5 linked regions of the Homo sapiens genome follow. The protein of the gene in region 2 purifies or fractionates together with the protein of the main gene of each other region. This does not show direct contact. Each region holds a gene or a part of one and is shown on either strand. Other genes may lie near its edges. The genes, in order: CORO1C, DLGAP5, MACROH2A2, RNF10 and RSRC1.

Region 1 (5,868 bases), on a different chromosome or scaffold from region 2:
ATATTTATTTACAATAAAAATTACGAAGTTAGTTTATAATAACATAATAAGAATTTTTTTTTTTTATTTGAGATGGAGTCTCTCTTTGTTGCCCAGGCTGGAGTGCAGTGGTGCGATCTCAGTTCACTGCAAGCTCTGTCTCCGAGTTCATGCCATTTTCCTGCCCTCAGCCTCCTGAGTAGCTGGGACTACAGGCGCCCGCCACCACGCCCGGCTAATTTTTTGTATTTTTAGTAGAGATGGGGTTTCACCATGTTAGCCAGGATGGTCTCGACATCCTGACCTCGTGATCCACCCGCCTCAGCCTCCTAAAGTGCTGGGATTACAGGCATGAGCCACCGCACCCGGCAAATATTTACAATTAGTAGTCCTAGGCCATAGAAAACATCTTTATTCCTTTCATCTTCTAGGAAAATGGAAAGACTGACAATATCACAAGTGTATCATGCAAAGTTGAAATTCAATTACTCAATTAACATTTATTGAACAGCTACTATGCACCAGGCAATATGCTAGGAAATGGAGGCACCAAAAAATGTAAGATATCCTCTACCTTTAAGGAACATGGAATATAGCAGTATTATAAGGTGTTCACTTTCACAAACTGTAAAATAATTCTGTACTCAATCTCTAGTCATTTAATCCCAGATGTAATTAGTATTAGCATAGAAATCACTAACACTAGTGACACCCACAAATTACACTTTCACCTACCTTTATAACTCCATAACCAAACTATATTTACATTTTACTCTAACATATTGTATAAATGCATAACCTATTATCATCACTTTCCATAATCAGGGCCATCTCATCTACCCATCTTACACTACTCTTCCCTAATTACACCAGTTCTGAGTCAGCCCAGTACTATTAGGCACACCCTCAGGCAGGATCTCACTCCCAGTGTCCCACAAACACTGACTCTCCAACGCCTGTCTCCTGAATTCCCACAGAGCTCACAGTCTATACTGCAGAATTCACCATCAAAGAGTCATGTGCTTGAGGGCTGGAGGAGGCTTGTAATGTATTTTTTAAACTTTTACATAATTTAAAAGTAAATCAAAACATTAAGCTTGCCATAAGACTTTGTGAATACGAATTTTTTAAATGATACCAGAAAAATCAAGTCCCTAATATATTTTGCATCATAAAATGTTTGAATGAAAAGAGTTCTTTGAAACCAGTAGTTCAAACCCTTCACAGAGGCACTAACAGAATGGAGAGGTCAATAATTTCCCACTGTTTGATGAAAAAAGTGACTTTTTGATAAGTTTATAAAAGAATAGAAAAATAGACAGGACGAGTGCCCAGCTCTGGCCATTATAAGATGCCCCAATTTACAATCACTACCATGCCCTGATCAACTTTCCAAAGGTCACAGAAACCAAGCCACTTCGCCAAAACCTAAGACCCTTTCAAGCTGTGAAGTTCCCAAATGGAAAAGAAAAAAAAAAGATCAGAAAGTATTTTGAAAAAAATTTAGCAGAGTCACTGTTTTGGAGTGACAGGAAGAACCTTTCTAAAGCAGGCATGGTTTCTTCCTGATTCCAGGTATCAGGACTAGCCTCCTTACGTGGGGTCTGCCTGACTTCACATGCCTCTGCTCAACTTTCCCCTTGAAACCTTGCTGTAATGACTGAATGCAAACATTTCAAAGAGACAATCTGTTTATCAGTAAGGAACCTCCTCTTTAAAAATATTAACATTGTACACCTCTAAAAGGGTTAAAGAACATGAGTGAAATGACATGAATAAAGCCTGTAGTCATCCCAACCCTGAATAACAGCGGTAGTCTAGCAGGGAAATGAATTTGAACCATGTGCTTTGCTACCATGATTTAAAGAAAGTGAGCTTAACCAGGGAAGTAGAAGCTTCAAATTAAGAGAGAGATGAAGGAGGATGAAGAACAAGGAGGGCCAGCACAGACCTGGAGGGCTGCAGTGGCATGAGACCCCTGGACGCCACACAGCCTGCACAGGGAGGCTCCTGGGGCATGGGGCATGAGTCCTTACTTCTCTTTCACATGACTACCAGCTCCCAAGATCCAGAATTCCACTATCACCATAAACAATTTCAAAAACTGCTGTGAATTAAACAGATTCCTTCAGTCTAGGCTGGGAACGTACCCACCACTTACAATGCTGAATCAACACAATAGATAGAAATTACTACTAGTAGATCTGAGTTCCAAATAACTGAGTTAGACTCTGGAACACAACCCAGTCTTGAGTTGGGGACCAAATGTACACACTGCCTGCCTCCAAAACAGAAATTTCATCTGGGCTCTTGCTCATTCACTTTCAGAGAAACACACAGTTCATAACCATCCTTTGAAGGTATGATATGTTATTTGTTCTACTTGATAAAAGTAATTCAGTCCACTGCACTCAAGACACTGTCATAATGCATAAAAAGATCAAACTAGCAGTCTTAGGGAGAAAAAAGAAGACTTCCAACTTATCTTTTCCTACAGTAGCACTGTAAAGCAACAGTGGCCCACAGAAGAGAGAGCCTAAAGGACAGTTACTCTATTTCTAAAACAGACAACGTGCATCTTATTAAATATCACCCCCAAAGAACTGTGGCCAGCCCTCATTGGCTCCAGCCTCTCTCTTGCTTGCCAAGAAAAACTAGGATGACATTGTTAAGCTAAAGATACTACTAACCACAAAATTAATTCACCATCTAGCTTCCAAAGTGACTAGTTTCCTAATAAATCCCTCTGCTTAACAGAGATGACAGCGCACTTTCACGTGTGTTCCTCAGTCCCCACTCCAGCCACATTTGAGTTTTTATGTTAATAAATCAGTCAATTCTTTAAGTTCCTAAGAATGAAAGGAATTAGAATCTTTAACTAGGAAAGAATGCTTGACCATTACGAAAAGGAATTTAAGTATCTTTCCTGTGAAGTAAGCAAATAATGGTGATTAAACATTTGTCATAAGGAAGGGATGCTTGTGAATTTTGTCATGCACCCCTATGATATCAAAAGTAGAAAATACAGCCTGACGGCTTCACTCTCCTAACACTTCCTTTCCCATGTGTGTCTACTATGGTCTCTCATGAAAAATCTACAGCTTTGTTCATCCAGAATGAAGGCCTCAGCAGTTGTTGAGACATGGGGACCCACACCCAGTTCCACAATGGAGCAAGAAAGTCTCTTACACCAAACCACCATGTGACCAGACTTGCAGTCTGTCTTGGTTTCCCAAAGACAGAACAACCACATTGTGAAACAATAATCAACCTTTGCTAATCCTAAGTGGTTTTCATTATGTCTGTTACAATCTATATATTAATAGTTCAGTACTGGGCCTGTGTTGTTCCTGTCTAAACTTGGTGTTTTCAAATACAGACGGCCTACTAATGCCAATTTTTCTGGCAAGATGCAATGCAAGGGCACCTTTGCAATAATAATCGGTCTTCCAAATACAAGACAAATCTTTAAAACCACTGCTTACTAGTGCTCAGATTATAAGACTGAGGAAATTTAAAAGGATCAATAAAATACTGTCAAGGAGCTTTACATTAAAAATAGAAATCAAGTTTACCAAAGGTTTATCCAAGAGATATCATGTATTTTCAAGTTTCCTAAAAATGCATCTAAAAATCCTCCTAAAAACCTGGACCAAACTTCACAGTTTAATACATGCACAACCTGAATATGTGGGAAAAAGCAACAACAACAACAACATAGGTACATGCTACCAACTGTGGTGATTAACTGAAGAAAACTCCGTGAATAGGCTTGGTTTGCAGATCTGGCAAAAGAGCATGACGAAAGGCTAAGCAAATGGAACTGCTGCACTGGGTCAAAGACTACAAAGGGAAAGCCATGTCAGGTTCACATTGTTAAATAAAAAATCCACACTATACTATAAATTCACACAACTAACTATAAAAATTAATTCATACCACACAAAGGAAGGGGCAGTTAAGTTCCTGATCTTGGGTAAATCTGTCAAGCTCCTGCCACCAAAGTCTCCTCATCTGTAAAATGAGGAATAGACCAGCCCACAGTGCTTCCTGTTCTGGCTGTGATTCAGAGTCACCAGGGAACTCACACCCAGGCAGCTGGATTCATATAGGTCCACAGATGATCATCACAAGGCAGTCAAGAATGAGGACCTCTGTACCTGAGCAATAATCTCCCAAATCTCCCAAAATAATATATCCTTTAAAAGATGGTGAGATACTGGTGCCAAATATAATCCATTATTCATAAATTTTTAAGAAGAAATGTAGATCATTGCCTGACCAAAGGGGAAAAAATATAACTGCCTTCCACATACAATGTATAGGCCTTCCTACTCCCATTTATAGTCTCTCTCACTCTGACCTTTGCATTATATTAATTACTCATTACTGCAGCAAACGGGAGGAACTGTATTTTTGTTATTAATGTAAGATCCAAATGACAGGCCTAATTTAACATACCATAAAACTATAGAGGCTCTTTTCCCACACAGGATGTTACACTTTATCACACTGTAACCAGAAGAGTTATCTCAAGCACTGCAGTGCAATCTCCTTCAAATCCTAAAAAAATCCATCTTTTGCCAGGAACTTTCCTTAAAATGGACAGACAGACACACAGACAGAGAGACTGAATACACAGACCTGAATAGAGAAGACTGTCTGAATAGACATTTCCAATTCAGACAGATGCAAAAACACTGGAGGTGTTTTTAAGACCGCCTTCCCATCCTAAAATTAGACATTTTTTGCCCTCTTCAGTGACTCAACTTTGATTCAAAGTCTAAAATCCTCAGGTGGGAGTAGGAATCCATACCCTTAATAGCTTAATGTCAGATGTAAAATGTATTAAACTTACTCTATTTGCTTCTCTGCAGTTCCATTCATTAACAGACATTTAAGAGAGAAGAGAGGGAACAGGAATGTATTCAGTACCTACTCTGTATTAGGCACTTCATATAATTTTCCTTGCTTAATCTTGCCAATGACCCTGCAAGGTAAGCCTTTTGCATCTCCACACTACAGAGGAGGAAAGTGAAGCTCAGGGAGGTGAGGGAGCTGGCAAAGTCACAGCTAGCAAGAAGCGGAGCCAAGAGTGAAGCCCAGCTCTATCTGGCCCTAAAGGCCTGCACCCTCACGGCCTCAGTTCCCCTAAATACAAAACTCTCTTAGAACGAGAACTACAGAAGGTACCCATAGCTCACTGTCCCTAACTAGACAAAAAAGTTGACATTTTTCTTTCTCTTCTGTACTACCTTGCCACAATCCAAGCTTTAACGAACACACAAAGAAAAGGTATCCCGAAATGGCCAACTGGTTTCTCCTAATTCTCAGAAAGGTGCTAAGTGAATTTATTTATTTATTTATTTATTTTTTTGAGACGGATTCTTTCTCTGCCGCCCAGGCTGGAGTGCAACTCTGTCGCCCAGGCTGGAGTGTGATGGCGCAGTCTAGGCTCCCTGCAGCCTCTGCCTCCCAGGTTTCAAGCAATTCCCCTGCTTCAGCCTCCTGAGTAGCTGGGACTACAGGCGCGTGCCACCACACCCGGCTAATTTTTGTATTTTTAGCAGAGACAGGTTGGCCGTGTTGGCCAGGCTGGTCTCAAACCCCTGACCTCGTGATCTGCCCGCCTCAGCTTCCCAAAGTGCTGGGATTACAGGTGTGAGCCACCACGCCCGGCATGAAATATTTTTAATTAAAGTATTTTAAAAATAAACATAATCTGGGAGGCCGAGGCGGGCGGATTATGAGGTCAGGAGATCGAGATCATCCTGGCTAACACAGTGAAATCCCATCTCTACTAAAAAATACCAAAAAATTAGCCGGGTGTAGTGGCGGGCGCCTGTAGTCCCAGCTACTTGGGAGGCTGAGGCGGGAGAACGGCGTGAA
Region 2 (5,868 bases):
ATCTTCTATGCTGCTCCTAAAGAAGAAAAAAAGCAGCATTACACTCATAAACATATTGTTATTGTTTCACTTGTATTTTGAGTCTTTCCTTTAATGATGGCAATTAGTTTAGGGAATGGATCAAACATGGAGCCTGGTGCAAGATCAGGCGTGATCCAGATAGATTAGTTTTGGACTATAGCTACTGCAGGATGGCCTTACAAACTAAATGCATTCTTCCCCAGAAAGCTCACAAGTCTGTTACCATGGTGGTCAGTCAGGGTCAGGTGGCTCTACCAGCAATACTCTGAATCTCAGCCAAATCCAGAGCTATATATTAAAGAAAAGTCAAAAAGAAGGTGACTTCTGGAGACAGAAGCAACAATTCAATTATTGTCTAGCTGGAGTTAGCTACATTTACTCGTTACTTGTTAATCCAGGTACCTGCTAAGAAACTTGACTTCAATCATACTATTTCTATAATTTTATCCGAAAGTTCAAAAAGCGGAACAGGAGTTACAATGTTCTTAAGTCTGCTGCTTGTTAACAAGTAAATGTAGCTAACTCCAGCTAGACAATAATTGAGTTAGAATACAAGGTATTCTAATCCTGAAGTTACTAGCTTGTATCTTATTAGAAATATCTGTTTTGGCCAGGCGCCTTGGCTCACGCCTGTAATCCCAGCACTTGGGAGGCAGCGGCGGGTGGATCACGAGGTCAGGAGATTGAGACCATCCTGGCTAACATGGTGAAACCCCGTCTCTACTAAAAATACAAAAAATTAGCTGGGCGTGGTGACATGCGCCTGTAGTCCCAGCTACTTGGGAGGCTGAGGCAGGAGAATCACTTGAACCTGGGAGGCGGAGGTTGCAGTGAGCCGAGGTAGTGCCACTGCACTCCAGCCTCAGCAACAGAGCGACACTCCGTCTCAAAAAAAAAAAAAAAATTTATCTCCACTTCTTTCAAGTTACTTTTTAAAAAAGATATGCTCTATTTTTCTAGTGTCCAGCTTTACTTTGCCTTTATTACACAAAGTTGCTTATTTGTATGATGCCCTTTGAGGATGTTTTGGGGAATCCAAAACATTTTTAAAGAGTACTTATGACTCAAATGCAATTATGAATCTTCTTAGCAAACAATAGTAAACTACAAGATATACAAAGTAGGCCGGGCATGGTGGCTCACGCCTGTAATCCCAGCACTTTGGGAGGCCAAGGCTGGCAGATCATGAGGTCAAGAGATCAAGACCATCCTGGCCAACATAGTGAAACCCCGTCTCTACTAAAAATACAAAAATTAGCTGGGCGTGGTGGCGCGTGTCTGTAGTCCTAGCTACTCGGGAGGCTGAGGCAGAAGAATCGCTTGAACCCAGGAGGCAGAGGTTGCAGTAAGCCGAAATCGTACCACTGCACTCCAGCCTAGGCAACAGAGTGAGACTCCACCTCCAAAAAACAAACAAAAAAATCTAGAAGCATATCTAGCCCATAACAGTTGTTCAGTACACATTAACTCCCCCCCCTTCAATATGCTCTGCCATCTGTCAAGAAAACAATCTCAAGGTACTTTCTACAAAGCCTGGTAAAAAGTGTCCATCTCTCAACCACCTTGGGGAGGCATTAGCACTGCTGCTTTGTAGATGATGAAAGTGAAGCTAAAGAGAATTAATTACTTGCCCCAAAGTTGCATAGCTAGTAAGTCACAGAGCTCTTCTCAGCTCAGAACTGTTGAGCACCAAAGTTGTAGTATGTTTAGCACCAAAGGATACCATATTGCTTCTTTTCTTCTTACTGCTGCAGAATTTACCCAACTAAACGTGACCATTTAGTATCCTGAAACCTTAAGCTTTAGTTTCCTCATTTATAAAAAGGGAGTACTGCCTATATGTTGCAGGGTCATTATGAAATTTATTAAAAATATATGTCTGGCACCTTTTACCATCTTAACAATCTGAAATGGTATTTAGTATCAGCAACTGTTAAACTCTTATTAACATGTTAAAGAAATACCTGCTTTCAGGAATACTCAAAAACAAAGTCTTCTTCACATGTTCACTTTTCGTATTCTGAGGACCGGCATTTTCTGGTGATGTAGTTTGTTGTGGAATGCCCATCTCATTTCTACTCTGAGATACAGCTTTGTTGACAGACTTAGGTGTTCCAAGTCTTTGAGAAGGGCCTTCAGAAGAGACAGAAAGTCCTAGAAGATGAGAGAAATCACCTCAATACCAAATAGTTCTTTTGCTTTTCATTATAACTAGGAATACGGTGAAAATCCTATCAATTAGCCTCTTTCTCCTGTCAAATAATGTCTGTTAAAGACAAATGCCTGGGACTTTCTGTTAAAGATAGTATTTAAATGCATATTAGATGCTGCTTCCTTTTGACATCCCACTACTTTTACATGAACAGAGATAATTTTTTTGTTGTTGTTGAGACAGAGTCTTACACTGTCACCCAGGCTGGAGTGCAGTGGTGTGATCTCTCGGCTCACTGCAACCTCCGCCTCCCAGCTTCAAGTGATTCTCTTGCCTCAGCCTCCCCAGTAGCTGGGACTACAGATGCATGCCACCACGCCTGGCTAATTTTTGTATTTTTAGTAGAGATGAGGTTTCACCATGTTGGCCAGGCTGGTCTCGAACTCCTGACCTCAGGTGATCCACCTGCCTCAGATTCCCAAAGTGCTGGGATTAGAGGTGTGAGCCACTGCGCCAGGCCTGAACAGAGATAACCTTTTTTTTTGTTTTTGTTTTTTTAGAGATGGAGTTTCATTCTTGTTGCCCAGGCTGGAGTGTAATGGCATGATCTTGGCTCACTGCAACCTCCGCCTCCTGGGTTCAAGTGATTCTCCTGCCTCAGCCTCCCGAGTAGCTGGGATTACAGGCACCCGCCACCACGCCTGGCTAATTTTTTGTATTTTTAGTAGAGATGAGGTTTCACCATGTTGGCCAGGCTGGTCTCGAACTCCTGACCTCAGGTGATCCACCTGCCTCAGCCTCCCAAAGTACTGGGATTACAGGTGTGAGCCACCGTGCCTGGACACAGATAATCTTAAAAAGCAGAACTCTACAAGGACAAAGGAAACTAAAGAAGAGATAGCAACAATAACAATATTTTGGAAGCTATAATGTAGATTGTTGAGTGGGACTTAGCAGACTCAAGAAAACTAATTCTAAGCCACCAATCAAGAAAAATGAATTGGCCGGGCGCGGTGGCTCATGCCTGTGATCCCAGCACTTTGGGAGGCTGAGGCAGGTGGATCACGGGGCCAGAAGATCGAGACCATCCTGGCTAACATGGTAAAACCCCGTCTCTACTAAAAAAATACCAAAAAATCAGCCGGGTGTGGTGGCAGGCGCCTGTAGTCCCAGCTACTTGGGAGGCTGAGGTAGGAGAATGGCGTGAACCCAGGAGGCGGAGCTTGCAGTGTGCTGAGATCGTGCCACTGCACTCCAGCCTGGGCAATAGAGTGAGACTCTGCCTCAAAAAAAAAAAAGAAAGAAAAATGAGAATCAACCCAATTTCTACCACATAACCCCTCAAAAGAACTGGTGGCTCCAAGTATCTCTGCAAGTGGAGATGAAAATGGAGCTAAACACAGAAGGAATGGCTCAAAGTCAGTTTAAACAAGAAGAGCTCAGATTCCTTTCCTCATTCTGCACAGCAAAGCAACTGTCATCACCCACCCCCATCACCAAAAACAGAAGGGTCTCTGGTTTAGAGGATACCAGATACAGTTGAGAGACAGGGTACTACATGGAAAATAAGGGAAATAAGTGAATATTTACACAAAGTGTTGAGACACTTAGCTTTCTTCCCCTACATGGCTCCTGAAAGACTGGCAGCCAGAATGATACCTTCCAGGAAGCAGATGGAAAGCATCTTCTCTGGGGAATCTGAGTAGACTATGAGAAAAGTCTTAAATGCAGTGATGTGTAGGTTCCCAGCATAATGGCCCCGCTAACAGAAGGGCCCCGAAAGTAAAGGTCCTACCCATGTGCAGAGAGTTTCCAGTCAGCTTTTTAGTGCCCTATTCTTAACCATGTGCAGGCAGTGAGAGATCACCAGATTCCCGAGGAAAGCCTCTAAATACAAGAGACAGAAACCAAAAACAACTAGATGAAAGTACCCTGAAACAAATACTGTCTATAGTGGATGAAGAAAACATAAAAGCTATCATTAATATCCTTGGAAAGATAAAACAATACACTGATGAAACAAGTGCAGAATGTTATAAAATGAACATTTGGAGAGTAAGAAAGGGCTCTTGGGAATTAAAAACATGATAGCCAGCATGAAAGTTGAGGAAATCTCCAGGAAGTAGAAGAAAACAGTAAGTACAGGAAAGAAAGATTAAAAAGTCTACCAGAAGAAAAATGTGTTTTTGAAAAAGATCAAACCTTGTCAAGAGAGATGGTGGTAAACAACAAAACTCCAGTAAGACTCCAGTAAGTCCAAAAGACTCCAGTAAGAATTGAAAGTAGTTGCTTCTAGGGATTGGCAAATGGAATGAGAAGGGCTTCTTCAGGGACTACTGTTTTGTAATTAGCCTCATATCAACTATGTGCTCTGTAACTAAAACTCAATTTTAAATGACCAATTTTTGCCATAAACCTTAATCTCCCTATCTATAAGGACTGAGTTGAGTATATGAAAGAACAGAATGATGAGCTTATAGCTGTAAAAACCACGAAGATCCTTGACAAGTAGTAGAATGGAGTCATGTTATTAGCAGTAGTGGGAGATTCCTGGGTATCCAGGGAGTGTAGCTGCTTAAAGGAAACAAAAGTACACCAGATTTGATACCTAAACTAACAAGAATATTATAATATACTTGAGGATCACTATAAATATCAGATAGCAGGTATTAGAGAACAATTTAGGTTTACTTTGAAAAAACTTCCTGGTGGACATCTATGGCTTATAAATAAATAATTTCAATTGAGATAAATTCAATTCAAGAAAAATAGTCTGTGGAAAAAAAAGCTATGACAAACACTGTGAGAAAATCACAAAAAAATGATTTCCTGAATATTAAAAACTGCTTTTACTGGAATATTTTTAAATTGGAAAATTAGTACGTTTACTACCTTTCAAAAAGATCTGAGCAAAAGTTTTAATACAAATGCAAATAAAACCAAATCCACTTTGCATAAACTTCCTTTTATTTTTTAGAGATGGAGTCTTGCTCTGTCACTCAGGCTAGAGTGCAGGGGCACAATCATAGCTCGCTGTAACCTTGAACTCCTGGGCTCAAGTGATCCTCCTGCCCCAGCCTCCCAAGTAGGTGGGACTACAGGCATGTACTGCCAGGCTCGGTTAATATTTTATTTTTTTGTAGAGAGGGGATCTCACTAAATTGCCCAGGCTGGTCTCAAACTCTTAGCTTCAAGTGATCCTCCTGCCTTGGTCTCTCAAAGTACTGGGATTATAGGCATGAACCAACACACACAGCACATAAGCTTCATTTTAAAGCACAGCTAGACAAGTGTGATAGCTGGATGCTCAAGTTTCCTTTGCATTATAAATTCTAACCAAACTTCTAACTGACCTGAAGAAAATCAGTTTACTTCTTCATGCTTCCGTCATTTCTCTTACCTCTTGGGATCCTGTGACCTTTCTCATAGACTGTAGGGTTACATGGTAATTACATTACAGATGTGAAATCACTTAGAAAGTAGAAAAGCAATCTTAGAAGACTTATCGCACTTAAACTAATCTGATCATACCCATCAAAATGTGATTTACAGTGTTTGTGAGCGAGCATAGTCTATTTTCTAAAAATCACAGAAAAACTTATGTCTCTTCATGTAAAAAACTATTTTTCACCTTACACAAGCCCCCATCTATCCCAAATATTTCTCTTAAGTAGTCTCAGGAAAAACAAAAAAAA
Region 3 (5,868 bases), on a different chromosome or scaffold from region 2:
TTTTGGAGGAGAGTGTGAAGGGCAGAGGGCTCCCTGCGCCGGCAGGACCTGCCCGGCCACCCTCCACTCCCCTGCCATCACCCCTCCTCTCTCCTTTTAAAAAGCAAAACCCCACTCTTGGGACTCGGGTCGTCCTCCGATCCCTGCTGGAAAGTGCGGCGGCTACTTGGCGTCGAGCTTGGCCATCTCCTGCACGTAGATGCCGATGCTCTCGCTGTCGAAGAGCAGGAAGTACACGTTCTTCAGCGAGGACGCGCTCGAGTCATCAAAGTGGGCTGAGATGGCTTTGAGGGTCACCTGGGCCGCAGTCTGTTTGGGAAAGCAGTTTCTGTGCCAAAGCAAAAGAAGAGCCGATGTCATTTTGGTCCCTGGGACCCATGGGAGCATGAAGTGCCTTTGTTTTTACTGGGTGGGGCCTTGCTGTGTGCAGGGCTAGTCCATGCATGATCTCCTTTGACCCTAGCCAAAGGGACAGCCTGGGGGTGGCAGGTGGGGCATGTTGCCCCCACTTTATAGGTGTCACACTGACTCGGAGAGGCACAATGATTTAATTTGATTAAATTAATTTATTTGTTTTGGGATGGAGTCTCTCTCTGTTGCCCAGGCTGGAGTGCAGTGGCGCGATCTCAGCTCACTGCAACCTCCACCTCCCGGGTTCAAGCGATTCTCCTGCCTCAGCATCCCAAGCAGCTGGGACTACAAGTGCGCACCATCATGCCTGGCTAATTTTTGTATTTTTAGTAGAGACGGGGTTTCACCATGTTGGCTAGGCTGGTCTTGAACTCCTGACCTCAGGTGATCCGCCTGCCTCGGCCTCCCAAAGTGCTGGGATTACAGGTGTGAGCCACCGTGCCCTGCCAAGCACAATGATTTTAGTCAAGGTCACAGGGCTGGCCAAGTGAAGAGTGCCCTGTATTTTATTTTTTATTATACTTTTTTTAAATTAGTTTTTTTTTCAGAGGCAAAGTCTTGCTCCATCACTCAGGCTAGAGTGCAGTGGTGTGATCATAGCTCACTGCAGCTTCAAACCTCTGGGCTCAAGCTATCTGTCTTCTGCCTCAGCCTCCTCAGTAGCTGGGACTAAAGGCGTGTGCCTATAAAAAAATTTTTTTTTTTAAATTTTTTGTAGAGATGGGTCTTGTTATGTTGCCCAGGCTGGTCTCGAACTCCTGGCCTCAAATGATCCTCCTGCCTCAGCCTCCTAAAGCTTTTGGATTTACAGGCGTGAGCCACCGTGCCAGCTCCCTATATTTGATTCTATGTCACCTGACCAAGTCAAGCTTGGCTTTAAAAATGCTAGCCATTCAGCATTAAAAATACCTGGTCTTCAAACAAGCAAACAGAAGTTTTATTAGCTCCCTCCAAACTGGTTTATATACTAACCCAATTGCTTAGTAAAGGGCAAAAATGTATGCTCCAAACCTGTCTTCGTAAGTCCTTTTTTATGCACTTAATATTTCATAGGCACAGGCCCATGTAATTTCAGCATTGTGACTCCGGGCATGGCGGGGTTAATGAAAGTTTGTTAAAGGCCCCAGGTTCCAGGGAGCTACTGATAGTGCCATCCACCAGGCTGGGCCACAGCACCAGCTTCCAGGGACACAGCCAGAATGGTCGTTAGGGGTCAGCCACAGAGACCCCTGGAGCAGGTCCAGGAGGGGCCTGTTAATAGGAATTCTTCCCAATCGCATGTATTCCAGCACAGAACAGCACTGCCGTGGTTCCACCGACGAAAGAATGCATCTCACAGCATCTCTGGGCCTGGAATGCTGAGACTCAATGCTGCTTGCCTAGGTTGATGTGTGATTACAGCAGGAACCTAGGTCTCATTATTTTCCTCTTGGGCTTCCCAGGACACAGCTATAAACCATAGCTATATTATAAAGGACAGCTCTCAAGGTGAGAGGGTGTTCAAAATTAAAGCAATAGATTGGCTAGGGGCATGAAGGGAAAGGATATGTTTTATGTGACAGCAGATATCCTCATTATGTATCTGAAACAATGCCCAGCTGGGATCTGTGACAATCCAGTCATTGCCCAGTCTCCTTTTCAGCAATCACTCGGGGACAGATTTTCACTTCTCTGGGTGTATTCATCAAAGCCTCGAACTCCTGGCTCTGCAGTCTCCCAGAGCAGCAACGGAATTCTCTGGGGATTCTGGAGCCAGAGGTCGGAGATGGGGGGCCTGAGATTCTGCATTCTGACATCGGTCACTGCTGCCTATGGACCACACTTTGAGTAGCAAGGCCTTCGAGCCTGGCGTTTTCTGATCATGTGTCCTGGACATGGACAGCTGGTGGGAATATGGACTTTGAACCTGGAAGGCTCTCAAAAAATAACACACCAGCTGGCCTCTGCCTCCCGCTCCTCCCCTGGGCTAGCCTTCCTCCTGGGGCTTTAACATCAAGGAGGCACTGGGGCTGGCCCCAGCCGGGGAAGACCTGCTGCCTAGGAGCCAGTGGGCTCGCTTCCCCATGGTTTCTGAAGGATGAAAACCGGGTTTCCTGCCCTGTCATCTGGTCAGCATACTTGGCTGTGCTGGCAGCCCTTGGCAACACCCAGATCAGATGTAAGTGGGGGAGCAGCTGATTTCCAGGGAAAAAGCCGGAGGAATCAACTCAGGGGAACTGCATCTTACCTGCCGCTGGGGAAAGGCGGGAACGCGACGGACTTTAGCTTCTTGTCCTCCGCCGCTGACAGGCAGTTTTTGATGGTCTCTTCAAGCTGTTCTTCACATTTGTCGGAGCCCCACTGAGGGATGTGACAGTGGATGACAAATTTGGCTGCGAGTCCACTGGATTGGCTGACGGCGGCTGGGACATAGGAGAGAAAATGCCGCGGGTTATTTCCTAAGGTTTCCTAGGTTATAGCCTAACCTCATCAGGTACCTGTTAGATCTGGAGATAAGGCAGTGATAGAGACGTTGGCTGGGCAGCATCCTGTGCTCCTGATGTGGACTATGTTTAACGAGAGCAAGAGCTGGGCTGTATTGCTTTGCACAGTTAGCACAAGCTTTGGGTAGAAGCGTTTAATGCTGCTCTGATGCGCCATTTTCATATGGTCTGCCAAGTAGTCCCTGGGTTGGGCTACCTCCTCACAATGGTTCCTAGTTAAAGGGACACATCAGATCCTCTCTGGTGGCTGTGGCAGGTAAAGTAATGGCATCCCAAAACATCCACGTCCTCCTCCCTGAAACCTGTGGGTGTTCCCGTACATGGCAAAAAGGACTTTGCAGATGTGATTAAGTGAAGGCTCTTGAGATGGGGAGATGATCCTGGACTGTCTGGGTGAGCCTGGGACCTGATAAGAGGGAGGCAAGAAGGTCAAAGGCAGGAGAAGGCCGTGGGATGAAGGAGACAGAGATTGGAACGATGCAGCCAGGAGCCAAGGAATGTTGCAGCTTAGAAGCTGGAAAAGGCAAGGAAGGGATCCTTCCCTGAGCCTCCAGAAGGAACCAGCCCTGCCAACACCTGGATCTTAGACTCTTAAAACTCATTGTGGACTTCTGGCCTCCAGAACTGTAAGAAGACAAATTTGTGTTGTCTGAAGCCACGAACTTTGTGGTAATTTGTTACAGTAGCCACAGGAAATGAATACAGTGGCTTTTATTTTTATTTTTTTATTTTTAGTTTTTTTTTGAGACAGAGTCTTTTTCTGTCGCCCAGGCTGGAGTGCAGTGGTGCGATCTCAGCTCGCTGCAACCTCCACCTCCTGGGTTCAAGTGATTCTAGTGCCTCAGCCTCTCGAGTAGCTGGGATTACAGGCATGTGCTAATTTTTAAAATTTTTTTATAGAGATGAGGTTTTGCTATGTTGCCCAGACTGGTCTTGAACTCCAGGGCTCAAGTGATCCTCTTGCCTCAGGCACCCAAAGTGCTGGGATTACAGGCGTGAGCCATCACACCTGGCCTACTGTGGCTTTTAAAAAATAGCTGTGCCTGGGCCCCACAGAGTCAGGGTACTGACCACCCAGAGGTCCTGACTCAGTAGGTCTGGTGCAGGGGCTTATGCTTATGTGATTTTAGGACCTTCTATGAGTTGAGAACCACTGAACTTGATTGTGTAGTTCCTTGACAGGGACTGCCATTTGATGATCTCCACATGCCCTGCAGAGAGTGGGGTTTCAAAAGCGGGCTGTGAAACTGAATTAGGCCAGCCTTGTCTCACAATTTCTGTCATACTCCTTTGTTTTACTGTTTACTCCCCTAAATGTGGTTCCCATTGGTGACAGAGTTGATAAAGCCCCGTGGCTGCTAAGCTCGAGGGAAGTCCCTGTGGGACTCCCCAGGGGAGCAGTTCCCTCGGATCTGCCTGAGGCAGCTGCAGCTTCAGCCATGAGCCATGCTTGCCCCCACGCTGCCCGTCTGCGCCCTGTGCCCCTCCAGGAACCCAGGAATCGGCGTAGCAAGGGTCCGTGGCCACTAGGGGCAGCACTTGTAACAGAAACGTGTGTCCGCCGTATTCCAGAGCTGTGTGTGGGGTTGAGGTGAAAGACTGACTGGAAATCTATGATGCCCACCTAGTTTATATAAGTATTTCCTGGCAATGTCCACAGTGTCAGGGAAGTGCTGACTGCACTTCCTCACATGGGTAGAAGCCAAATCCAAGGGACCCCTTCGTCCATCAGGGGAGGCTGTAGGCTCCCTGCCTTCCAGTGCCTAGACGGGGCTCAGTGTCATCACACGTGAACGCCTGAGTGCAGGACCCAGGCCACACAATACACCGAGGCCCTGGGTAGGGGCCCGCCATGCGTGCTGACTCTACGACCACGTATATTTGTGCACCAGAAGCAGAGTGTCCCTCTTTGGACTGAACAATGATGCCCCTAAAACTGGAGGCTGCTCTGCTGAGAACCAAGGACCCTGGAGATGGGCCTTGCCTGCATGGTGCCATCTTCCCGAGCACCTGGCTGCTATTGTATGCCGGACAGAGTTTGGCTTGTTACAGTCATGGCTGATTTATTTCATATATTTTAAAAGTATAATCATGTTACTAGCAGAATGGTATTCCTCTAATGTAAAGTCTTTTTTTTTTTTTTTTTTTTGAGACAGGATGCCCCTCTGTTGCCCAGGCTGGAGTGCAGTGGCTCGATCACAGCTCACTGCAACCTCTGCCTCTCGGGTTCAAGCGATTCGATTCTCCTGCCTCAGCTTCCCAAGTGGCTGGGATTACAGGCACCCGCCACCATGCCCGGCTAATTTTTTGTATTTTTAGTAGAGATGGGGTTTCACCATGTTGGCCAGGTTGGTCTTGAACTCCTGACCTCAAGTGATCCACCCACCTCGGCCTCCCAAAGTGCTAGGATTATACTGCACCCAGCCAAAAGTCATTTTTAAATAAAAGGAATATGTTCCTATTGGCAATGTCAAACATCCAATCAAGTAAAAAATGACTTTCAGGGTAGTGCACGATGACATTTCAGTCCAAAACAAAGTATGTTCATGGCAACTGGAAATGAATAACACAGCTTGTAGCCATAATGCTTTGTAATGTTCTCCAGAGTTGTCAAGGATGAGGGTCAAGTTATTGCAAGGGCTGTGACCCTGGTATTTGGTATAAGCACCTATCCACATAATGACTAGGGGCATTCTCTTACCTAATGTGATGTTGCCTGGTGAAGACCTGCATTCTGAGGGTGGCAGTGCTGCTGCTGGGAGCTTCTAGAACCTTCCCCCAGGTGAGCCATCACAGTTCTTGGGAGTCACCACAGCAAAAGGGGACTCTAGGTTGGCCCCTTGTCCTGCTGAGAGGCTGCTACTGCTGATGCCTGGTTTCCGTGACACTGTGGGTTTTCTTTTAACAGCACCTCAGTTTCCCACAATGGCCTCTCTTCTTCCTGCGTGTCTGGGCCCAGTGCTCTTCTCTCTGC
Region 4 (5,868 bases), on a different chromosome or scaffold from region 2:
TTCACCTGCTGGATATGGCAAACTTGTTTACCTGGTGTGAGACCATTGGAGTATGGGTTCTCGGGCCGTGTCAGGAAATGGCATGTATGCAGACTGATTTTGCAGTTCTGCACATGCGTAGCTTTGCCATAGATCCCTCAAAAGATAGAAGGTAACCAGTCCTTTTGGTCAGTGTTGGAACTGGTTTAGAGTGGTCTGTTCAAAGCAATTGATAAGTAAGTTTATTTTTGTACTCTATTCCCAGATGTATGTTAAGGATTTGGTTCTCCAACTGTGAATTCTCAACTAATTTTTCTGGGGCTCCTCTTTAAGCCACTAACATACATTCATTAGTCAGTTGCAATAAATGCCTTAAGTTTATTTCTTAGCAGTAGGTGAAAGCTTGTGACAACTTAAAATAAAACAAACAAACAGGTATTTAAGGAATTTTACTGCTATGTCCTTCACTTTGAATATGTTGGTTAGTGGAATTAACTCTGATTACCCAACAAGATGATACAGAATTCTATAGTAGTTTGACCAAAGCAAGTATTTGTCATTGTTAACATTTCAAATGGGCTGGGTGGCTATAATCCCAGCACTTTGGGAGGCTGAGGCAGGCCGATTACTTGAGCCCAGGAGTTCGAGACCCTGTCCTACAAAAAAATAAATGAGCCGGGCGTGGTGGCACGCACCTGTAGTCCCAGCTGTGAAGAGGCTGAGGCAGGGGAGGAGGAAGAGCACTTAAACCCAGAAGTTCGAGGTTGCAGTGAGCCACGATCACTCCACTGCACTCTAGCCTGGGTGGCAGAGTGAGACCCCGTCTCAAAACAAGAAAACTTCTGTAAAAACTCATGTAGGCCGGGTGCGGTGGCTCACGCCTGTAATCCCAGCACTTTGGGAGGCCGAGGCAGGTGGATCATCTGAGTTCAGGAGTTTGAGACCAGCCTGGCCAACATGGTGAAGCCCCGTCTCTACTAAAAGTACAAAAAATTAGTCCGGCGTGGTGGTGCGCACCTGTAATCCCAGCTACTCGGGGGGCTGAGGCAGGAGAATCCCTTGAAACCGGGAGGCGGAGGTTGCAGTAAGCCAAGATTGCACCATTGCACTCCAGCCCGTCTAAAAAAACAAAAACTCATGTAAAGGCCCTTTGTTAGATTTTACAAATAACACATATGTGCCTTGAGGCAGCATTCTTTTTTTTTTGTTTAATGTGTGTGTTAGAAAGCTTGACCATGTTTGCCACCGCCAGTGTCTGCTTTTCTGGCTTCTGCTGTGCGTGTTCGTTTAGCAAGGAAGGATGGGCTTTGTAGCCAAATCCATGCTTCTTCACTAGCCATAATCCACTGCTTGCATTTAGGAACAAATTAAAAGGCAGGATATGTGGAGATTAAAAGGTTAGGAAACTGGATATTGGCTGATTTTTAAAGTTGAAACTAAGCTGCCTTAGGAACGTAACAGCTAAGACCAGTGCTACTACAGCAGATACTCAGGAGCTCTGATGCAGTGACTTCACGATGAGATGGTTGCTCTAACAAAAGGGTACACTCAAGCTCCGCATAATCCCATAAAAAGATTTCTGCAGTATCTCATAAGCTGAACACTTCATATACTTGATTCTGCTGGGAATCATTGAAAGGACCTCTTGAATTACAGAGTACTGAGTTGAGGGGAAAACAAGCGTAAGGTGAAAAGATAGTTTATCTTTTGTCAAGGTGAAAAGAGCAAGAGTTTTCAGTATTCAAATATTTAAGTCACTTTTTTTCTCCCCCTTTTCTACCTCGTGGAAGAAAGCCCTTTGGTTTCTATTCTGTAAACTGTCATTAATGGCCATTTGCTTCCTAGCTACATGATTAATTTCTTTGAGATTTTGTTCCAGTGGCTGGCTTAAATTTGCCCTTCATTTGTACACAGGAAATATGTAAATTTGGCTACCAGGATTTTCTTGATCTTTCCGGCTAGAGTCGCATACCACAGTTTCTTTGCCTGGGCTAATTGCCTGAACATTTATATAACATTCCTTTTCTTGATTATATTCCTACAGCTTCATTCCAGTAGTGTTAATAGGTATTTCTGAGAACATGCAGCAGTAAATATCCTGTGAATATAGCTCAGAGGAGAGAAGGTGGGTTAGAAAGTGGGGAAAGTCATTTAGAGGGAGCAAAGAAAGAGAGGCAAGAGAGAAGGTAGGCCGTTTATGGGCAGGCAGTGGACTCTGGCCAGGAACCAGGCTCTTGTCCCATCCCCCTGGGCCGATAGAACTGCCAGGGAGGTTAAGGGAAGGTCAGGTATTATGAGGCAGTTATTTTGAGGTTGGTGGTATGAAGCACTGCCCTGGCATTCTTCCTGTTATTCTGGTACCAGAAACCAGGTTACTAGTGGTAATCTGCCTTGAAGAATGCCTCTGAGCTGTAAATGGACCTGGAGATTTTAATGGCTTTGAAAATTGAGGTGATTTGAAGCCTTCAGTAAAACCACTTAGAGAAATTAAAAGAATTTCAGGGCCCGTTGGCTGGATTCCTTGGTTTATATGGCTTCATTGGAAGTCTAGTGGGTGCTCTTGACAGGAACGCTTTGGATTTATTAATGATAGGCTTTCAAATCATAGTAAAACTGTGTGTCAGCCACTATGGTAGGCATTTTACAGAAGTTTTCTTTCTTAATCCTCATGATTCTATGAGGAAGTATGGTAGAATATTAGTCCTGTTTCACAGAAAAGAAAATAGAGGCTTAGCAGTGTTAAGAGTGATTTGTCCAAGTAAATTTTTATGAAGTCCTAGGCGGTATTTTTCAATAAGCTTTGTATAATCACACTTAGCAAGCAGATAACTTACTGGCATGTGCATCATTCCTGATACCACCTCTCTCTTCCTTTCATTCAGAATTACTAATTTCAGCTGGATTCAATTTGTTGTCAGTTGATTCTGTAGTAAGGCCATATGTTGCCCCTCTGGAGGTGCTTGTCAACTACTCTGGATGATGGGTAAGCAACTTGCTTGTGATTACAGCATGAATCAGCAGCAGAAACTTGCTGACTGGTATTCTGACCTCTAGGCCGAGCCACCTGTTAGAACTAGAGCTAGAAATGAAGATGCCAAGTAATTTAACTGTGAAAAACTTGTGGCCCTTAATTTGGTAATGGGGGGAGGCTGAGATATACCTACTGCTACTTGGTGGAGACCTTTCCATTAGGGAAATGTGGAACAACTGAGAAGCTGGGTTAAGTTTTTAAGTCATTTATTTGTCGACTCTGGAGCCTGAGTTTAGTGGTCTTGTCCATTTTGGAATGTGTCTTGACAGTAGTTCTTGGCAGTTGTTCTCAGTGGTGGCTGTGCATCAGAATCTCCTCAGGAACTTTTTTTTTTCCCTCAAGACAGTCTTGCTCTGTCACCCAGGCTGGAGTTCAGTGGCGCGATCTCAGCTCACTTTAACCTCTGCCTTCCCGGTTTAAGCAATTCTTCTGCCTCAGCCTCCTGAGTAGCTGGATTGCAGGTGTCCACCACCACACCGGCCTAATTTTTGTATTTTTAGTAGAGATGGGTTTCGCCATGTTGGCCAGGCTGGTCTCAAACTCCTGACCTCATGAGGAACTTAAAAAAAAAAAAAATAGGGGTGTGTGGGGCCCCTTCCTAGGAATTTATTATCTTTTTTTTTTTTGTAGAGATGGGGGTCTCACCATGTTGCCCAGGCTGGTCTCAAATTCCTGGCTTCAAATGATCCTCCCACCTTAGCCTCCCAAAGTGCTGGGGTTACAGGCATAAGCCACTGTGCCTGGCCTTTTTCTGATTCTTTAAGCCTAGATTGAACCCGTGGGTCCTGGGCATTCATAATTTAAAAAGTCTGTGCAAGTGATTCTGGTGTGCAGCCAGGATTGAGAACCACCACTCTGAGATTTAAAACTTCACCCATAGTTCCTTCTCCCAGGAACTTGATATTTTTTGTTTTCCAAAATCTAAAGTGGATCATCTTATCACTCCTGTTCTACCCTCGAGTTTTTCCCATGTATATCCTGGCAAGTTGTCCACAAAACATTTCAAAAATAATACTCTGAATTTTATCTCTGGGTCCCAGGCCTGATGGTACCTTCAACCTTTAGCTGCCTTTTGCCTGGGTCTAGAGATAAGAGCCAGTCTCTCACTTGACATATCTGTCTTCATACCCTTAGGTAACTGGAAGACGAGAAACGAGTTGATTTTGGCAACTAAAATCACTAATCATGATGTGGTCAGTTGTTATGTGTTTTGGAAATGAGCAGTTTACTGTCTTATCAGTGAGCATTTCTGTAAGCATTATGAAACTGTTTCCTTGCCAGTGTGGTAATAAGTGAAGAAATGAAGACAGCCTTCTTGCTGAGTGCCAGTTTACTTTCTTTTTTTTTTTTTTTTTGAGACAGAGTTTTGCTCTTGTTGCCCAGGCTGGAGTGTAGTGGTGCAGTCTCGGCCTTGCCGCAACCTCCACCTCCCGGGTTCAAGCTATTCTCCTGCCTCAGCCCCCGGAGTAGCTGGGATTACAGGCATGCGCCACCATGCCCAGCTAATTTTTTGTATTTTTAGTAGAGACGGGGTTTCTCCATGTTGGTCAGGCTGGTCTCGAACTCCCGACCTCAGGTGATCCGCCCGCCTCGGCCTCCCAAAGCATTGGGATTATAGGCATGAGCCACCGTGTCTGGCCATTTTACTTTCTTAATAAGCCCTTGCCATGTAGAATCTGGCTTTACCTAAATCTATGCAAACCGTGAGGTGCATCTTGAAAGCAGCAGTTAGGGTCAAACAGGTAGGGTCCAGGATCATCTGAAACAGTCTTGGATAATGAGGTTGGAGGATATGTGTTTTCTTTATATACCTATCCTCGTAGAATCTCCTTTGCTTGAGGTGATGTGAAATGGAGTTAAGGAAAGCAAAGCAAGAGAATGTGGCTGAGTTAGCTGGGGTTCTGCATCCCCTGAGTTTTCCTTTTTTTTTTTTTTTGAGACGGAGTCTCACTCTGTCGCCCAGACTGGAATGCAGTGGCACGATCTCCGCTCACTGCTAGCCCCGCCTCCCGGGTTCACGCCATTCTCCTGCCTCAGCCTCCCGAGCAGCTGGGACTACAGGCGCCCGCCACCAAGCCTGGCTAATTTTTTGTATTTTTAGTAGAGATGGGGTTTCACCATGTTAGCCAGGATGGTCTCTATCTCCTGACTTCGTGATCCACCTGCCTTGGCCTCCCAAAGTGCTGGGATTACAAGCATGAGCCATCGTGCCTGGCTTTTTTTTTTTTAGAGACAAGCTCTCGCTCTGTCACTTAGGCTGGCATGCAGTGGTGCAAACATAACTGACTGAAACCTTGAACTCCTTGGCTTAAGAGATCCTTGAACTCTTGAACCACTGTGCCTGGTTTATCTTTTTCTTTTTTTTTTTGAGATGGAGTCTCACTGTGTCTCCCAGGCTGGAGTGCAGTGGTGCAATCTTGGCTCACTGCAAGCCCCGCCTCCCAGGTTCACACCGTTCTCCTGCCTCAGCCTCCTGAGTAGCTGGGACTACAGGCTCCCGCCACCACGCCTGGTTAATTTTTTGTATTTTTAGTAGAGACAGGGTTTCACCATGTTAGCCAGGATGGTCTTGATCTCCTGACCTCGTGATCCACCCGCCTCAGCATCCCAAAGTGCTGGGATTACAGGCGTGAGCCACCGTGCCTGGCCTTTTTCTTTTTTTGAGACAGAGGCTCACTCTGTAGCCCAGGGTGGAGAGCAGTGGTGCCATCATAGCACACCGCAGCCTCAACCTTGGCTTAAGCAATCCTTCCAACTCAGCCTCTCAGCTAGGACTGCAGGTGTGTGCCACCACATTGGGCTAATTTTTAAATTTTTTGTAGAGATGGGGTCTTGCTATGTTGCCCAGGCTGGTCGCA
Region 5 (5,439 bases), on a different chromosome or scaffold from region 2:
TCACGCCTGTAATCCTAGCACTTTGGGAGGCCAAGGCGGGCTGATCACTTGAGGACAGGAGTTCGAGATCACCCTGGCCAACATGGCAAGACACCGTCTCTACTGAAAATACAAAAATTAGCCGAGTGTGCATGGTGGTGTGCACCTGTAATCCCAGATACTCGGGAGGCTGAAGCAGGAGAATCACTTGAACCTAGGAGGTAGAGGTTGCAGTGAGCCAAGATTGTGCCACTGCACTCCCACCTGGGTGACAGAGTAAGACTCTGTCTCAAAAGAAAAAATTATGCTAAATGAAAGAACCAGTCATGAAAGACCACATATTGTATGATTCCTTTTATCTGAAATGTCTAGAATAGGCAAATCCATAGAGAAAGAAGATTAATTGTTACCTAGGATGGAAAGGTTGGAAGGAATGGGGAATGATTGCTAATGGTATGAGGTTTTGTGGGGGATGATGAAAATGTTCTAAAGTTGATTCTGGTAATAATTGCACAACTCCATGGATATGTGAAAAGCCATTGAATTATGTACTTTAAAAGGGTAAATTGTATGGTATATGAATTCTATAACTCAATAAGGCTATTTTTCTAAAGATAACCTTTGAATTTACTTTTCATACCTAAATTGGCCAACTAAATGTTGGATATTTGTTGTAAGCTTGTTTTGATTAATAGAATTTAGATATATGAAATATATGTATATTTCAATAGTATAGGCACGTAAGTACCAATTTCTTAAGAAAAATGTGCTTATCATAAGAAATGATTGACATTTTCTCAGCATTTTTCTATTTGTTATTCCTAAAACAAATACAATATAGTTATTCCTATATTCTATTTCTATATATCTATAACTATATTCCTAAATATAGTTATTCCTAAACAAACAAATATAAAAATAAAATAACTGTATTTCTAAAACAAACAAATACAAAAAGTAGGGCCTTTTTGGAGATGGGTATCATCTCAAAGGAGACTAATTGAACAGTTGTTATTCAAAATCAGAAATATTTTTGAAGTAAAACTCTAATTGTGTATTGTGTTGAAATTAATATGTGTTGTTTCTTTCAGTCAGTGGAACCTAGTGAAGTGAAACAAGCAACTTCAACATCAGGACCAGCATCAGCAGTTGCTGATCCACCCAGTACTGAAAAAGAAATAGATCCTACCAGCATCCCTACTGCTATCAAGTACCAAGATGACAATTCCCTGGCCCATCCAAATGTAATATCCTTAAACTTTACGAATGTCAGTTGAAGTCTAATTTACTGAAATTATTTCAATCTGTTATCCTTTTGTGCTAACACCAAGGAGACCATTGGAGGAAACAGGTTCATATTCCCTTGCTAAAAATAGGCATCTGGCCCCCAGGCCTTTAGAACTGTTATCTATATTTGAATACAGTAGGGTCCAACTCATGTTGCCTAACCTGTAGAAGTATTCTGTCTATGGTTAAGAAAAATAGACAAAGAGAAGCATTTTTTCCTTTTTTTTTTTTTTAGCTGAATTGATCAGCACCATGAGAAGTGTTTGTTTAAAAATCTAGCACTAAAAGTTCCATTTCTGAGCTCTACTTTGTTCATTATCAGTGAGCACATCACTAACATCATACTTTGCTGTCTTCCATGAAATGTTGTAATTCTGCTGTTTTGGAAAAGTTATAGGAAATAAACTTCACAAATATAAGGTACAAAATTGTTAAGCAATGATGTTGATACTAGTAGTTCTTTTACTCCAAGAATTTCTGAGCATTACTAATTCCAAATAGATAGTCATCAATTAAGAGGTCATCAAGAGTTAAACAGTATCCAAATCTTGTGTTGAGAGATATATTCTACAAAGGTGAGTTCTGTCATTTTAGGTCAAATTCAAGTTATTGGGAGACAGTAACATTTTTTCTTTTTCTTTTCTTATTTCAGTTATTTATCGAGAAAGCTGATGCTGAGGAAAAATGGTTCAAGAGATTAATTGCTCTCCGACAAGAAAGACTAATGGGCAGTCCTGTGGCCTAAGTAATATACATATAGTTGGATTGGATTGTCAGCAGTAACATTGGAAATTTAGGTTTTTAAATCCCAATATTAACTTTTTACTCTTAAAAAGAATTTTGCTGATTATATATAAAGGTAGTCTCATTTCATTTGTCTCTCATGTAGGCTTGAATATTTGTTAATTTGAATTAAATCAAACATTGTAAAAATTAAAACAAAATTTAAGATTGCATGAAAATGTTATACTGTTAATAAAGCTAAACATAAATAAGTCTGTTAAAATGAATGGTAGACACTAGTGTTTCTTAGTGCAATTCAAAAAATGTCAAGATGTCATTTAAAGACACAATTTTGATTAATTATGCATACATGAGAATTGAATTACATGCTATAAATATGAGATTTCATCTTCCGTATGGTATTCAACCATTTTTAAATATTTTATTTCACCATATTGCAAATTTTTAGGCACAATAAAAAGCACCCTAAACAATGTAAGCAGAATGTGCATGTTAAAGAACATATTTATGGAAAAAAAATTTTTGAAACTTAAATAAATTGGTGATTTTGCTTAGAGATCAGCTTCTACTAGATGCTCCTTTACAACATGTTAGCAGATCTCAGCTCATTGTTTTAGAAATCACATGTTCATGCTAGACCTAACCAGTTGGCCAAATACCTATGATGGAGAAATCATTTCTGAGAAAACTGATAAGAGCTCTCACTTCAGTCTTACTTACCCCACTGCTATTCCCTGTGGAGAAAGCCGGCTAATTGTTTTGATAAGGCTATCTGCCATTGTAGAATACCTTTCTCTAGTAGCTGAATGACAATCAACTATACGTTCCATACTAAACATGCCAGAGATAGGACTTTTAGGCCTTGCTTTACAAAACTGGTTTTTAACAGCTGACATGAATATTTCCCGTTTCTATTTTCTTTTTTTTTTTTTTTTTTTTTTTTTTGAGACGGAGTCTCGCTCTATCCCCCATGCTGGAGTGCAGTGGCGCGATCTCAGCTCACTGCAAGCTCCGCCTCCCAGGTTCACGCCATTTTCTTGCCTCAGCCTCCCGAGTAGCTGGGACTACAGGCACCCGCTAACATGCCCAGCTAATTTTTTGTGTTTTTAGTAGAGATGGGGTTTCACCATTTTAGCCAGGATGGTCTATTTTCTTCTGTTGTCCAGTCACTAATTTAGTCTCTGCGAAGACTGTAGCTCAGAACAAAAGATAAGCAAAAAAAGTCTTCAGGGTAGGACTGCCAACATATAGGACATTTTAATGCCATCTTCTTTATATTTCTGGGACATTAAAATTCAAATCTCTGTTGAAAATGAAAAATGTAAAACTTAGTTGCAAACAGTATAGAAAATAAGTGATGATGAAATATTTGTTTTCATACAAACATGCTTTCCCATTCTAAATAGATGCTAGTTTTCTTTTTTCCTTGGCTGTAAATAAAAGTGCCCCAAATGAACCGAGATTTGTGTGGTTTTTAACATAGATGTATACAATTTTAGTGACTTAAAAAGGGGTTACAGTTTATGAAATATTTTTATTTCATACTTTGTATAACTTATAAACTATAGAAGTACTATCACCCTATTGGAAAGTATATGTTAGTGGTCTGGGCAAGAATATGGGTTATCATTTGGGCCACTAATGATTCTCCAGAGGACCTGGGCTAGGCAGTTTTCTCAATATCCCTGATCTTCCTTATCTATAAAACAGTGAAAATCTGGTCTACTTCAATTATATTTAATACCAGTGTTCCTCTGTGGCAAGTACCCCAAATACAGAAGCTTGAACTGTGACAGAATTGTTTTTTGGGGTTTTTTTTGGGGGGGAGGGCGGTGGTTTGAGACAGAGTCTTACTCTGTCATCCAGGCTGGAGTGCATTGGTGCGATCTCGGCTCACTGCAAGCTCCGCCTCCCAGGTTCATGCCATTCTCCTGCCTCAGCCTCCTGAGTAGCTGGGACTACAGGCGCCTGCCACCATGCCCAGCTAATTTTTTGTGTGTGTATTTTTAGTAGAGACGGGGTTTCACCGTGTTAGCCCGGATGGTCTCGATCTCTTGACCTCATGATCCACCCACCTCGGCCTCCCAAAGTGCTGGGATTACAGGCATGAGCCACCATGCCTGGCCGAAAATCAAATTTTTTTAATGAACTAAACTATGGTCCCTACAGGAATTCGGTAACTACTTCCTTCCTCCCTAGTTTTCAACATGATTCATTTTTATATATTATTAACTTCGTTTACCTGCATTCCTATCAAAGACCACAATATTACCACACAAGCCAAATCAAATTTAATAAAAAGGACTGCATAGAACATGATCAAACATATTGCCTAATTCAAGCTAGCCTTCTTTAATATCCTTATATGGTGAGTCTATAAAACAGAATAATTCCTTTCATGTCACTTGATTAATGATAATAATTTGGACATACATGAGACCTTAAGTGTTTTACGAAACATTGATTTCTTACAAAATGATGGGTACTGATAATACAGGTTGAGTTTTCATTTCTGACAAGTAAGTATATTCTCAAGGAAAATGAAATAAGAGCATTTTTCCTGGCACTCTCTAGTTATGAGGAGTCAAAGAGCTAAAGATATGAGCACAGAATACTTTGAATCATTCACCTCCTTTGCTTCAGCATCCTAACATGTGAAATGAGGATACTAATTGCAGACCTGCCTACTTTGATTTTTCAGTAAAATGACATAAAAGAAAGCCCTTCATAGAAACTTCTGCTATTTATGCCAAGGGAACATTTGACATGATAGACATCTTAGTGAAATGTGGAACAAATAGTTGCTACACTCCAACTTGAATGTGTTTATGTGTGTGCTTGAGCTGCCATGGTCAATAGTTGCCGTTCCAGCGATTTCCTCAGCCTTCCCTGCTCTTCTTCCCTGCCAAGGTCGTAAGAAACCTTACTTACTCTGCAATTAGTGACCTACCATCTACTTATTTGAGAAATCTCAGTTCTTCTTTACAGTCAGATTTACCCATTTATTCATGAATATCATTTTGAGTACCTAGTTCATGCTGGGCACAGTAAGATGTGCTTGGGGGATGCATACCTGAATCCAGTAGAGATCCTGCCCTCAAGAGGCTTAGTTGTGAAGCCCAGACATGTAAATGATGTCAGAGATATAGTACTTAGTGGCAGAGGAGAGGACTTGGTTGCAAAGAAGAGAGAAATTACTGTAAGTTAGAAAATTAAGGAAGTCTTCATGGAAGAAATCAATCAAACTGAGTCTTGAAGGACAAGAAAGCTGGAGCCATAGGAACTCTCAGTCACCCACTTATATCTTCCTGATAGCTATTCTAGAAGGCTGGGAACTACTGCAGTTTTAACCTAGGACAGAGTACCTCTCATGAAATACCCAAGTGGCCCTGCTCAGTCAATCTTATCAAAAATCTAGGCAAAATTTCA

The links.
Region 1: the proteins of DLGAP5 (region 2) and CORO1C purify together in Homo sapiens (affinity purification with mass spectrometry; one large-scale study listed by BioGRID and IntAct). This does not show direct contact.
Region 3: the proteins of DLGAP5 (region 2) and MACROH2A2 purify together in Homo sapiens (co-immunoprecipitation; one large-scale study listed by IntAct). This does not show direct contact.
Region 4: the proteins of DLGAP5 (region 2) and RNF10 purify together in Homo sapiens (co-immunoprecipitation; one large-scale study listed by IntAct). This does not show direct contact.
Region 5: the proteins of DLGAP5 (region 2) and RSRC1 purify together in Homo sapiens (affinity purification with mass spectrometry, with the first as the bait; one large-scale study listed by BioGRID). This does not show direct contact.

Annotation. Positions count from the first base shown.
Region 1 is NC_000012.12:108,720,473-108,726,340, forward strand, and holds part of CORO1C (coronin-1C), read right to left. Parts: intron 1-5,868. UniProt on the Homo sapiens protein: Plays a role in directed cell migration by regulating the activation and subcellular location of RAC1. Increases the presence of activated RAC1 at the leading edge of migrating cells.
Region 2 is NC_000014.9:55,152,632-55,158,499, forward strand, and holds part of DLGAP5 (disks large-associated protein 5), read right to left. Parts: intron 2,176-5,868; coding exon 1,986-2,175; intron 17-1,985; coding exon 1-16. UniProt on the Homo sapiens protein: Potential cell cycle regulator that may play a role in carcinogenesis of cancer cells. Mitotic phosphoprotein regulated by the ubiquitin-proteasome pathway.
Region 3 is NC_000010.11:70,105,978-70,111,845, reverse strand, and holds part of MACROH2A2 (core histone macro-H2A.2), read right to left. Parts: intron 2,814-5,868; coding exon 2,639-2,813; intron 329-2,638; coding exon 163-328; 3' UTR 1-162. UniProt on the Homo sapiens protein: Variant histone H2A which replaces conventional H2A in a subset of nucleosomes where it represses transcription. Nucleosomes wrap and compact DNA into chromatin, limiting DNA accessibility to the cellular machineries which require DNA as a template.
Region 4 is NC_000012.12:120,536,507-120,542,374, forward strand, and holds part of RNF10 (E3 ubiquitin-protein ligase RNF10), read left to right. Parts: intron 1-5,868. UniProt on the Homo sapiens protein: E3 ubiquitin-protein ligase that catalyzes monoubiquitination of 40S ribosomal proteins RPS2/us5 and RPS3/us3 in response to ribosome stalling.
Region 5 is NC_000003.12:158,542,265-158,547,703, forward strand, and holds the end of RSRC1 (serine/Arginine-related protein 53), read left to right. Parts: intron 1-1,070; coding exon 1,071-1,223; intron 1,224-1,918; coding exon 1,919-2,011; 3' UTR 2,012-3,466; downstream 3,467-5,439. UniProt on the Homo sapiens protein: Has a role in alternative splicing and transcription regulation. Involved in both constitutive and alternative pre-mRNA splicing. May have a role in the recognition of the 3' splice site during the second step of splicing.